Linked DNA regions of Homo sapiens. The protein of the gene in region 1 purifies or fractionates together with the protein of each later gene. This does not show direct contact. Each region holds a gene or a part of one and is shown on either strand. Other genes may lie near its edges.

The links. Proteins that work in one complex are often made in the same cells at the same time.
Region 2: the proteins of ATF6B (region 1) and PPP1R9A purify together in Homo sapiens (affinity purification with mass spectrometry; 2 studies listed by BioGRID and IntAct, with this or other methods). This does not show direct contact.

What each region holds. Positions count from the first base shown.
Region 1 is NC_000006.12:32,114,764-32,118,281, reverse strand, and holds the end of ATF6B (cyclic AMP-dependent transcription factor ATF-6 beta), read left to right. Parts: intron 1-243; coding exon 244-423; intron 424-587; coding exon 588-695; intron 696-877; coding exon 878-959; intron 960-1,174; coding exon 1,175-1,245; intron 1,246-1,466; coding exon 1,467-1,578; intron 1,579-1,717; coding exon 1,718-1,802; intron 1,803-2,313; coding exon 2,314-2,543; 3' UTR 2,544-3,018; downstream 3,019-3,518.
Region 2 is NC_000007.14:94,903,527-94,910,619, reverse strand, and holds the start of PPP1R9A (neurabin-1), read right to left. Parts: upstream 3,027-7,093; 5' UTR 2,918-3,026; intron 2,668-2,917; exon of another isoform or gene 2,481-2,667; intron 2,376-2,480; exon of another isoform or gene 2,026-2,375; intron 723-2,025; 5' UTR 507-722; coding exon 1-506. UniProt on the Homo sapiens protein: Binds to actin filaments (F-actin) and shows cross-linking activity. Binds along the sides of the F-actin. May be involved in neurite formation. Inhibits protein phosphatase 1-alpha activity.

The DNA.
Region 1 (3,518 bases):
TAGATGATGGTGATAATGCTGGTAGAAATAGTGACTATTAAGTGCTTACTGAGTTCTAGGCTCTAGGTGATGCACTGTCTTTTTTGTATGTAGGGACCATCCTTATTCCCATCTTACAGAGGCAGACTCAGGCTTGTATAACAGATTGCAACTCAAGCAGTCCATCTGCAGAGTCTTTATTCTTACCTAGATACTTGATACAGCTGAAATTCTTCATTGTGCTCAGTCCTTCTTTATCCACAGCATCAGTGAGCCTCCTTCAGCTCCCATCTCTCCTCGGATGAACAAGGGGGAGCCTCAACCCCGGAGACACTTGCTGGGGTTCTCAGAGCAAGAGCCAGTTCAGGGAGTTGAACCTCTCCAGGGGTCCTCCCAGGGCCCTAAGGAGCCCCAGCCCAGCCCCACAGACCAGCCCAGTTTCAGGTGAGGAGAGAGAGAGAGGGCCCCCTCTCGTTTGAGGGTATGAGTTGGTCTTCTCCCCGCTTTCAGTGAGGGGGACCCAAAGCTTTCTCTTGCCGTCATCGCCTTCTTTGTTGTGGGAGTGCTGGGCAGTCTCCAAGTGTTGTCTCCTTCCTGCTTCACTCCAGCAACCTGACAGCCTTCCCTGGGGGCGCCAAGGAGCTACTACTAAGAGACCTAGACCAGCTCTTCCTCTCCTCTGATTGCCGGCACTTCAACCGCACTGAGTCCCTGAGGTGTGGGATTCATTGCTGGGGCATCCAGCTCCCCCGGCCTCCCAAGGCCTTCTGCAGTCAGCCTGGCTGGCCTGTGTACTAAAGCGCCAGTGCTCCCTGCCCTCTCCTCACTCCTGTGGGTGGGCAAGGAGGGTGGGAATCTTGGCCTGGCATGGAGGTCCTGAGCTCCTCCATTTCCCCAGGCTTGCTGACGAGTTGAGTGGCTGGGTCCAGCGCCACCAGAGAGGCCGGAGGAAGATCCCTCAGAGGGCCCAGGAGAGACAGGTAGGGCGGGTGGCTGGTTCAAGGAAGGCCACTTGAAGACAAGGGCTAAAGGCCTTGTCTGGGGATTTCTAGTGGGCATCTCGCTGTGGAAGTTTGAGGGATCGTTTGAAGGAAGTGGAGGGTTGAGTGGGAGGTGGCATCAGCTTCCAGGGGCTGTTTGTCTCTTTCCCTTTTCCCTTCACCCTCTCCAAGTCCTTAGATACTTCTCCTTCCAGAAGTCTCAGCCACGGAAGAAGTCACCTCCAGTTAAGGCAGTCCCCATCCAACCCCCTGGACCCCCAGAAAGGTGAGTGTGGGGTGGGGTGCTTACTTATTAAGTGAAATTCCACTTTCAAGAGCTGTACCCCCAGTAGCTGTCCTGTGCCTGTCATTACTGTCACCAGTGGGATTATACCTCCCTCCTCCACTGGGGGTCTCCTGTCTTTTTCTCTCATCCTACCCGCTTCCCTGGTAGAAACTGAGCATTGGGCTTAGTTCCCCTCAAATCCTGTTTCCCCACCTGCCTAGGGATTCTGTGGGCCAGCTGCAACTATATCGCCACCCAGACCGTTCGCAGCCAGCATTCTTGGATGCAATTGACCGACGGGAAGACACATTTTATGTTGTCTCTTTCCGAAGGGTGAGTTTCTCCTGCCCTTCCATCTCTGTCACCCCAGGTTCCCAGCAGTCTGTCTTCAGTGGGGGGATGTAGAGTAGGGCTGGGGAGCTTGTTGGCATCTTTGCCTCCACCCTTCTGGCCTGGCCCATCTGTTCCCCAGGACCACCTGCTGCTCCCAGCCATCAGCCACAACAAGACCTCCCGGCCCAAGATGTCCCTGGTGATGCCTGCCATGGCCCCCAATGGTAACTCTTTCCCTGCTGGGTATGGGGGCAGTTCCAACAGGGAGATCCAGCCTGGGAGCTGAGGGGGAAGGGGGAGAGGAGCAGGGCATCCAGAGAGCTGCTGGACCCACAGGTGAGAAGCAGCAGGAAGTAGGTGGAGGGAAGAGCACCATGCAGGAGACTTGGGAGGGAGACAAGGGTGAGGGTCCTTCCCTGGTGAAGGTGCTTGGGTAGATGACTGGGCAGAGGCGGGGGGCCGGGAACCTGCTAGACTCTCACTTACTTTTTTCTCTTGATGTCCTCTCCTGTGTGACCCCACACTCAATGCCCTTTTCTTTTCCTACCCTCTCCTTGCCCCTGCACCAAACTCTGTCCCTGCCATCCTGTTTAACTCCCGCTATGGATCTGCCTCCTCACTATTGCCCTTTCTTTTTCTCTCTGCTCACCTCTACTTTTCTGACCTCCTCCCCTCCTCCCTGCAATCCCTGTTTGCCTCCCCATCTCCTCTTCCTTAACTCTCCCCTTCTCACAGAGACCCTGTCAGGCCGTGGGGCCCCGGGGGACTATGAGGAGATGATGCAGATCGAGTGTGAGGTCATGGACACCAGGGTGATTCACATCAAGACCTCCACAGTGCCCCCCTCGCTCCGAAAACAGCCATCCCCAACCCCAGGCAATGCCACAGGTGGCCCCTTGCCAGTCTCTGCAGCCAGCCAGGCCCACCAGGCCTCCCACCAGCCCCTCTACCTCAATCATCCCTGACCTCTGCCATTCACACTGACTTAGAACGGGGGGAGGGGGTACCAGGTGGCCAGGTGGGACTGTTTCAAATTTCCCTGATCCCCAGGCTTGGGGCAATTGGTAAAGGAAAGAGCAGGTGTGGGGGTTAAGCACTTATTTGAGGTGGGGGTGTTCACCTCTCTTCTCATCCCTTTTCAGAATATAGGGCTCCTCTCATTCCTGTGAACCCCCAGTCCTGGCTTCTTTGTTTGAGGGGATTGTGTGAGGTTCAGTTGTGGGGTGGGTGGTGAGCTGCTGCATATTTTTTATTTTGTTTCTCTAGTGTTATGGCAGTGGAGGTGGGAATTTAGTCCCCAGGTGGGACAAGGGAAGTTTTTTCATTTTGGAGCTAGTTACTGGGAGTAAGGGAGGGTGGGGTGGGGGGGAGTTCAGGTTTATGTGTGTGCATTTCTTTTTTATTATTATTAAATAAACAACTTGGAGGGAGTTGAAGGAATGGTGGCTGCCTTCCTGGCTCGTGATGGGGAGTTTGGGGGAAAGTGGCTTTTCCAGAGCCAGCATCAAAGAATCAAGCACTGAAGACATAGCTGGCTCTGAGGTGGGGTGGGTGCGGGATCACAGACCGCATGTCATCCCCTTGCCCCCACCCCTGCAACTCTGGGGTATATCTGTGTCTAGCAACGATGTCTCATGGCGTGACAGACTAGAGGATACGCATCCCTGGAATGTGAGTCAACAGGAAAGATGGGGCCCCACGCCCTTCAGGGTGAGCAGCCTCTGGGTCTCCTGCTCTCGAGCAGGTTCTCCCCCTCTTCTTGCTGTCCAGGATGAGCAGCTCAAACAAACAACAAGAGCTGGGGCCAGAGGCTCAGAGCCCAGGAAGTGGGGGTCTCGGTGAAGAAGGGGTGATATTTGGAAGGGAAGGGGGATGTGGCAGGATATCCTCTAAGCCCTAAACTGGAGGGGACTGAGACTTGAGAGTCCAGATGAAAGACA
Region 2 (7,093 bases), on another chromosome or scaffold:
CTCCCTCCAGCTTTCTCTTTCTTTGGGGAATAGCGGTTGTTCTGTCCTGATTCATGCACACTTCTCTCAAACATCTTTCGAGTCTCAGTGAACTTGGAATATGAAGGGCCATCGTACATAGTGTCAAATCTACTAATTCGTTCAGAAACAGAAGACTCCAACTTAACAACTGAGCCATCTGTTTTTTCCAGAAATTCTTTGGGCTTCATTCTTCTCTGAGGAGATGAATGTCCACCTTTCCCCCTTGTTTTGGCAATGACTGCAGCATTCTCGTTGGGTTCCATACCCATCTGCATAAATAGGTTTTTAATTCTGTTGACATTGGAGCCATATTTCCTCCCCCTGCTCTGCTGGGAGCCCTCACCTTCTTTTGTTTTTTGTTCCCCATCTGACTTGGGTTTGTCAAAGGTACTTTTCAGTGCCTGAAACTCAGTTCGATATGCATTCCTGTGAGGAGAGGCACTTCTGAGAGTGGTTCGTTCACCTGAAGACTCAGTTTTCAACATTTTCACTTCAGGGGTGAAAAGCCAATGTTCATAATGATCAAAGAAAAAAACCAAAAACCAAGATACCTCTCTTCTCTAATCACCAGTATTGGGTCAAGAAAAGTACCTCTCAAATGGTATACGGTGTCAGTGATCGTCCCAACAGGTGTATTAGGAACTTAGTCACAGTCAAGAGTTACACAGAATGATTTTTTCAAAGCAAGACTAGAGGTTCATCTGCAATAGAAAAGAATGAATTTCTGAATTCATTTACTTATTTGAATTTATGTCTAGTCAAATAACATACATTTTTTTTTCCAAATGGCTTAGCCACGTGGCAAACAGAAGAGATTACTCATTGAAATGGGAAGTTAAAAGTCAAAAAGTTATCATTCTGATTGGTCTTTGGTAAAAAAAAAAAAAAAAAAGTTCCAAACACAATTTGGAGATACCTATCAAAATCTCACACACACACAAACACATACACACACTCACAAATACAAGCTACACATAAGTATATTTGAAAGCAATACTTTAGCCCAAGTTTTGGTCGCTTTTGTGAATGCCCTTTAAAAAGAAACCAGCAGTTCATCGATCTTTAAGAAATCATCAAACTGTCCAGAAAATCAACTTCATTTAGGATTCTCCACAATTAGGTAGAACTTATTCTTTCTAAGTACAATTAAGTTTGGAATCTATGTTTACAAACTCCAAAACATGCCTACAGCGGCATATTTTACTTTTTTTGGTCCAATGTTCTCATCTACAGCATCCCCAAAGCAATACTAATGCAATTTCAGATCAAAACAAGGAGAAAAAAAGTTCCTGAATAGCAATAAGTTTCACTAAGTTCAGTTATAACAAGTATTTGGAAGTTTCCTAACAGTGGTTATTATTAATTATGGAGTGGGATGCAGACTACCAAGGGAATAAATGCGTAAGAATGTGACAATCAGAAAGCAAATATACTGTGACACCCCTTTTCACAGCCCTGATTTGTTTATTCTTTCTTGCCTCTAACTTACTACAGTTCAACACGCAACGCAATGCATGCTTGCTGGTCTCTTTAAGCCCACAGCAGGATTTTATATCAATAAGCCAGCAATCAAATACTTCAAGATATGCTGAGGAGCAGACAATGCAGGCAGTTCTAAAGATTTTTCATTTTATTTTTGTTTTGTTTTGATATTAGACCGAGCCACATCACCCTCACGCACAATCAGCTGAGGAGGCACACACTTTCACTTAAACCGTCTCCAAACTCGGCTCCTGGCCCAGCACGCATGCATGGCCCATGCAGACAAACAAGAAAGGCTTTGGAGTGTGGTGCCTGTTTTTTTCTTTTTTTGTAAAGCATCGACAATCTCCTTTTACCCTGACCATTCTTTTTAAAGCCACAAACACCCTCCCCTCTCCCCTACACACACCCCCCATTCCCTCCCCCGCCAATTCCAACCCAAGGAGGCGGGGGCGGGGGAGATGGGGCCGCCGGGGGATTCAAAACCTGCCCTCACAAAAGACAAACATAAATAACACCAACTTGAGAGGCAGCCGATTCCCAAGCCCGGTTCGGGACGCAATCCCTCGGCCCTGGGGCAGGACCGGGAGAGCAGGTGACGCCAAGCGCTATGGTAGGAGGTCGCAGTCTAGCTTTGTGCCAAGAAGCACCTGAAGTCCTAACACATTGGCTGCAGCTCCCGGCGGCTGCCAGGCGGATCCCACTGTGACACGGAGAGAGACGAGCTCCCTGGCCACATTTAAAAAAATAGAAAAGAAAAAAAATTACAGGGTAATGAAAATAAATCCCTTTGTTTTTCCTCCCAATGTGCCAGGAAACAATAGATCCCACTGATAATGCCTCCGATCTTCAACCTATTGCTCCTCCACCACAACCCACCCCCACCCCCAGCCTGCAACTCAGCCTTTGTACAAGCCGATTTTTTCCTCCTCTCCACCCTCCCCAACTCCTCGCCCCGCGCTCAGCCTCCCCCTTACCCGAGCGGGAGCGCCGCGGGCGGGGAGGGTCGGGCCGCCGCGGCTCCCACCCCCTCCTCGCAGGCGCCCCCCGCCCCACGGTGGACGCGGCGGCTCGGCTCGGCGCCGGCCCGCTGGGTACACCGCAACCCGCTCCTCACGGCGCAGCGCGTAGGGCGGCTGCGGCGGCCGCTTCCACTCGCGCGTCGGCCCCCAGGCGCTCCCTGCCCGCGGCGGGCGGCCCCGGGAGGCGCGCTGCGCTCCCCAACGCCATTGCGGGCGGGCGGCGGCCCGAGCAGCGACGCGCCCGCACGCTCGGGCCGGCCTGGGGCCAGGGGTGCCGGCCGGGGAAGGGGTTTGGCCCACGTGCGGTCGCCACGCCGGGCCGTTTCGGCGGCCGCGGTGTAATGGAGGAGAGGCCGCGGGGGTGAGGAAGGCCGGGGTAACAGGTGCCTCACCTCGGCTGATGGGATTAACTCTAGGGCCGCAGAGAGAGGGAGCCCGGCAGCAAAATCCCGGGAGAGGGAGAGAGAGGGAGCCTCTGGCGGCCAAGGAAGGGCGAAAAGCACCGGCCCGAGGCGAGGCCGCCCCACCCCCTCGGCCGTGGGCGAGGGGCCTCTCCGGCCTGGGGCAAGGCCCCTTCCTGTTCGGGTGTTGGCTCCGGAACTTGGTTCTGGGGCTGACCGCTGCTGGGGCCCCACTTAGTCTGAGTCTGCAGTTAACTCCGTGACCCCAAGGCATCCAAGTCCCAGGCCACTCTGCTGACCTGGAAGGCCAAGACGTAGGCCCAAGTCTGGTGTGGCCTTCACCTAAGCCACTGCGCCTGGCCTACTACTCACCTTGACCTTAAGATCTCACTGCCAAAGAGAAAGGGATGAGGAGGTCTTCTACCTTTCCTGTCTAGGGAGAGTTTTTCAGCTCACTCCCCCCCGAACCCCGCCCTTTTCTAAAGGCTCAGTACAACCTCTTACACCCCCAAGTACCGGAAGTGTTACCACCTTCCTGCAAGATATAAAACTGATCATGACTGTCAATACAGATGTTTAAACCAATCCTTCCAAAAAGCCTAGGGAGCAGGAACTCTTAAAAAATAATTTTTCAAGAAGGTAAAAACATGACAATGGTAGAAATATAAAATGAACATTGGTCAAAATTTTTATAACTCTTTTAATTAGGAAGGGAACCCCAGCAAGATACTGCAACCCATTCACGTGAGACTGTGAAGAGTAGACATAGAGGCAAGAAGAGGCAAATCTGCTTACTATTCTATAGAGCACTGAAATGTAATGTTTATTATTATCTGCTTTACAGGGCGGTAACCAGTTGTATCTGTAAAGTAACAAATTTGCATTCTGTAGATAAAACTCATTTACATTACCAAACGTTTCTACAGCTTACTGAGTAGTAAAATAGCCTAGTGAAAGTCAGTCTAAGTAAGGTGCAGACGACTGTAAATTTCACAACACTCCGGAGTCCTGTAGATAACATCCAGCATTCCATTGAAAGGACAAACAGTAATCTTTTGCTCATTTCAAAGTCTTTCACAAGTTTTCCCAACATAACTATTTTTAGCCCCATTTCACTGATGGAAAAACTAAGGTTTAGGTTTTGTAACTTACCCGCTTCTTTATTGGCTATTAATAGTAAATGATTATGGCTGAATATGAACCCAGGCAAGTCCGTACACAAATTCTATATACTCTGGGAGCAAAATCTTTTCATTTCAGAAGGATTTTGTAACTACTCAATACTCAGTTCTATGTATTTTTTAATTTTAAGCAGCAAGGGCTTTTTTTTCCTTTAAGCATCACCAAATTCTGGGTCCTTTCCCAAGAAATTGGCATTCTCTGTCTACGAAGTGGATGTCACTTCTATAAGCATAAACAGATGTAACAGGCAATGTGAGGGGGCTGTGGTTCCAGGCTCCACTTTTGGAAAGAACATTTCTGCTGTCTGGGATAATCTAGTGGAAAAGTTCCTGTCATTTATTTGCAGTATGGAAACCAGGTTTTTTAGGCGAATAACCTAAATAAATGCAGAATCTAATCACTGAGTTCTGTCTGTAGAAGAGGGGGCAGAGTTGGCAATAAAGACAGTCTTACACCTCTTTGCAGAAAGATGATTCATACAGAAAAGCACCCTAAAGGATTTGGTTGGTTTGAGTTTTATCTTTTGAAAATCTGAAACTTCTGGAAAAGTTCATACTGAAGGAATGATAGAGTTTTAAACCCGATGGTGAGAATTTAAGATTCCTAGATTTCCTATAATGGACCTTCCATTTCCAACACTTACTTGAATGTTTGAAGGGTCTATTAGACTGCTAATCCAATACATGCGGCTATTTAACTTTAATTAAAATTAAATACAATTTAAAATTCAGTTCCTTAGTCACACAAGCCGCATTTGAAAGGCTTGATGGCTACATGTGCCTAGTGGCCACTCTGTTGCACAGTGTAGATACGCAACATTTCCATCACAGAAAGTTCTATCAAACAGTGTTGTTCTAGACCACATTTTCACTTCTATGAACTTTATAAGGGTTAACTTAGTTCAATAGATCATTAATGTATTAGGCATTAGAGGTCATACATTTTATATGTTCCAACTGGAAAGGTGGTGAAAAGTGAACTTCATTACTGACATGCAAAAAATCCAAAATGTGTTTGGGGTGGGGGAGTTCTCAGTTTTCATATATGATACCTTAACCTTTCATAAATTATATAGAATATTGTGGGCTGTTATTTTCATTTCCTTTGCAACCAATAATACCATGATTAGTATTAACCATGTGGTCACAAGGTTAGAGGATAAACAAAAAGTACAAAGTATATTCTATATTGTTTTAGGGGTTTTCTCAATGTATTTTTAAGTTTTCGTGATGGACATTCTAAGAACTATTCAAAGAATTAAGTTATTCATGTGTGTATGTGAATCATTGGGTGCAGCTGTGAAATTAAGCCCAAACTAAGCCTGAATCAAATTTTAAGACTAGGGAAAACTGGCTAAGCTGGTACTAAAGACTGCCCATCACACTTTCATTTCTAACAGGAAGATACCTAGCTGGTTGTGTACTAATGGAAGTTCCTGAAGGGAGAGAAAAGACCAGAACAAACTAAAAGGTCTCTAGACTTAACTTCTTTATGGAGAAGGCAAAGTAATGGGAGAGCAATTTCAGTAGGTAATTTTACACATAATTGTAGCGTAAAAGGACATGTTATTCATACCACTGTTTTCTTACCGATATGCATAATGTTTTGATAGTGACGAGGCAGCTTTTTAATTAAAAGTTTAATTATAACTACTTATTTCACATTTGTAAGTATCACAGAATGCTTTGTTGACTTCAGTCTTGAATGTTGATATTCAATTTTCTTAAAGGTCTCTTTAAAATAAATATCTGTATTTGAGGATAAAAGTTTAAGTTTACTTTTGAGTCTTATAATATTTCACACAAACTCCATCATAGAGGTAGAATATACTTCTCTAAAATAGTCCTCAGGCTCACATTCAGATTCAAAGATATCTATGATCAGTCTTATTTTGTGATGTTAGCTATAAAATTAACATTAAAGGTGTCATTTCTACCCCAATAAATTGATAATGATTCAGCATGGCTTTCTACCTACACTCATGGCTTGGACATGCCACTGAAAATTTAAACCATCATCTCTGTCCATTTCCCATTCTACAAGTATCTTGGATTTTCAGCTTTAAAAGTTCATAAGGTTGAGTATTTAGTTTTACTTGCCATGAGTAATGAACTGTAGAACTCTTCGGGATTCCTTTAGGTCATTTTTAAGTTACTAATATCTTATCTCTACAAATAAACAACAACAAATTTACACAGTGTGTTTAGGCTAAAGTGATACAACTTCTCTTTCTTTGCTATTATTACTTTGTCCACCCACACAAAACACAGGAAACCAAGAGTTTTATTGGACCAGACATTGGTATAATGTTTTCATTGCTGTCACAGCTTCTGAGGTTGAAACAACAGCTGCTATAACCATTAGTTTTCAGTTTTGTAGTGGTGCATGTTACACTTTTAAAGACAAGTATGAGGCATTTATTTGTTTCTACAGAAGCTCATTTTTCTTTCAACAGATTAGCCCCTCTAGCAGGACTCTAGTTGTGGTTTTCTGTCTGCAAATCCTCCACCTACAAGTTGCACCTGAACTCAAATTGGCATGTTGCTGATCTTACTTCAGAATAATTTATTCATAATCTATTATTTCGAAGTAGGCTCTGTTCCATATTATTTTGAAGTAGCTCTATTCCATAGCATTAGCCTTGGTGAATTAACTATTAAAGTAAATAAATAAGCATCCATGTTTGTCTACAATTAAACAGGAGATTTCTGTGACTTTATTTCCATTTTCAATCTAGTTCTAGTAATAAACCTTCTTGGTGAGGTCCACAATAGTCCCATTTTATACAAAATTTACATTATAACAGAATGCATTTTAAGAACATCGTAATATTTAATTTGTGTATGCAGTCATCAGCTTTTGGAAATAATTCAATGATAAATTTGCTCTGAAGTTACTAGTACATTTTTCATAGGTTCTTAAACAGCCATAATCCATGTTCATCCAGCATAGTAATTTATTACCATTACTTTAACGCATTGTTTC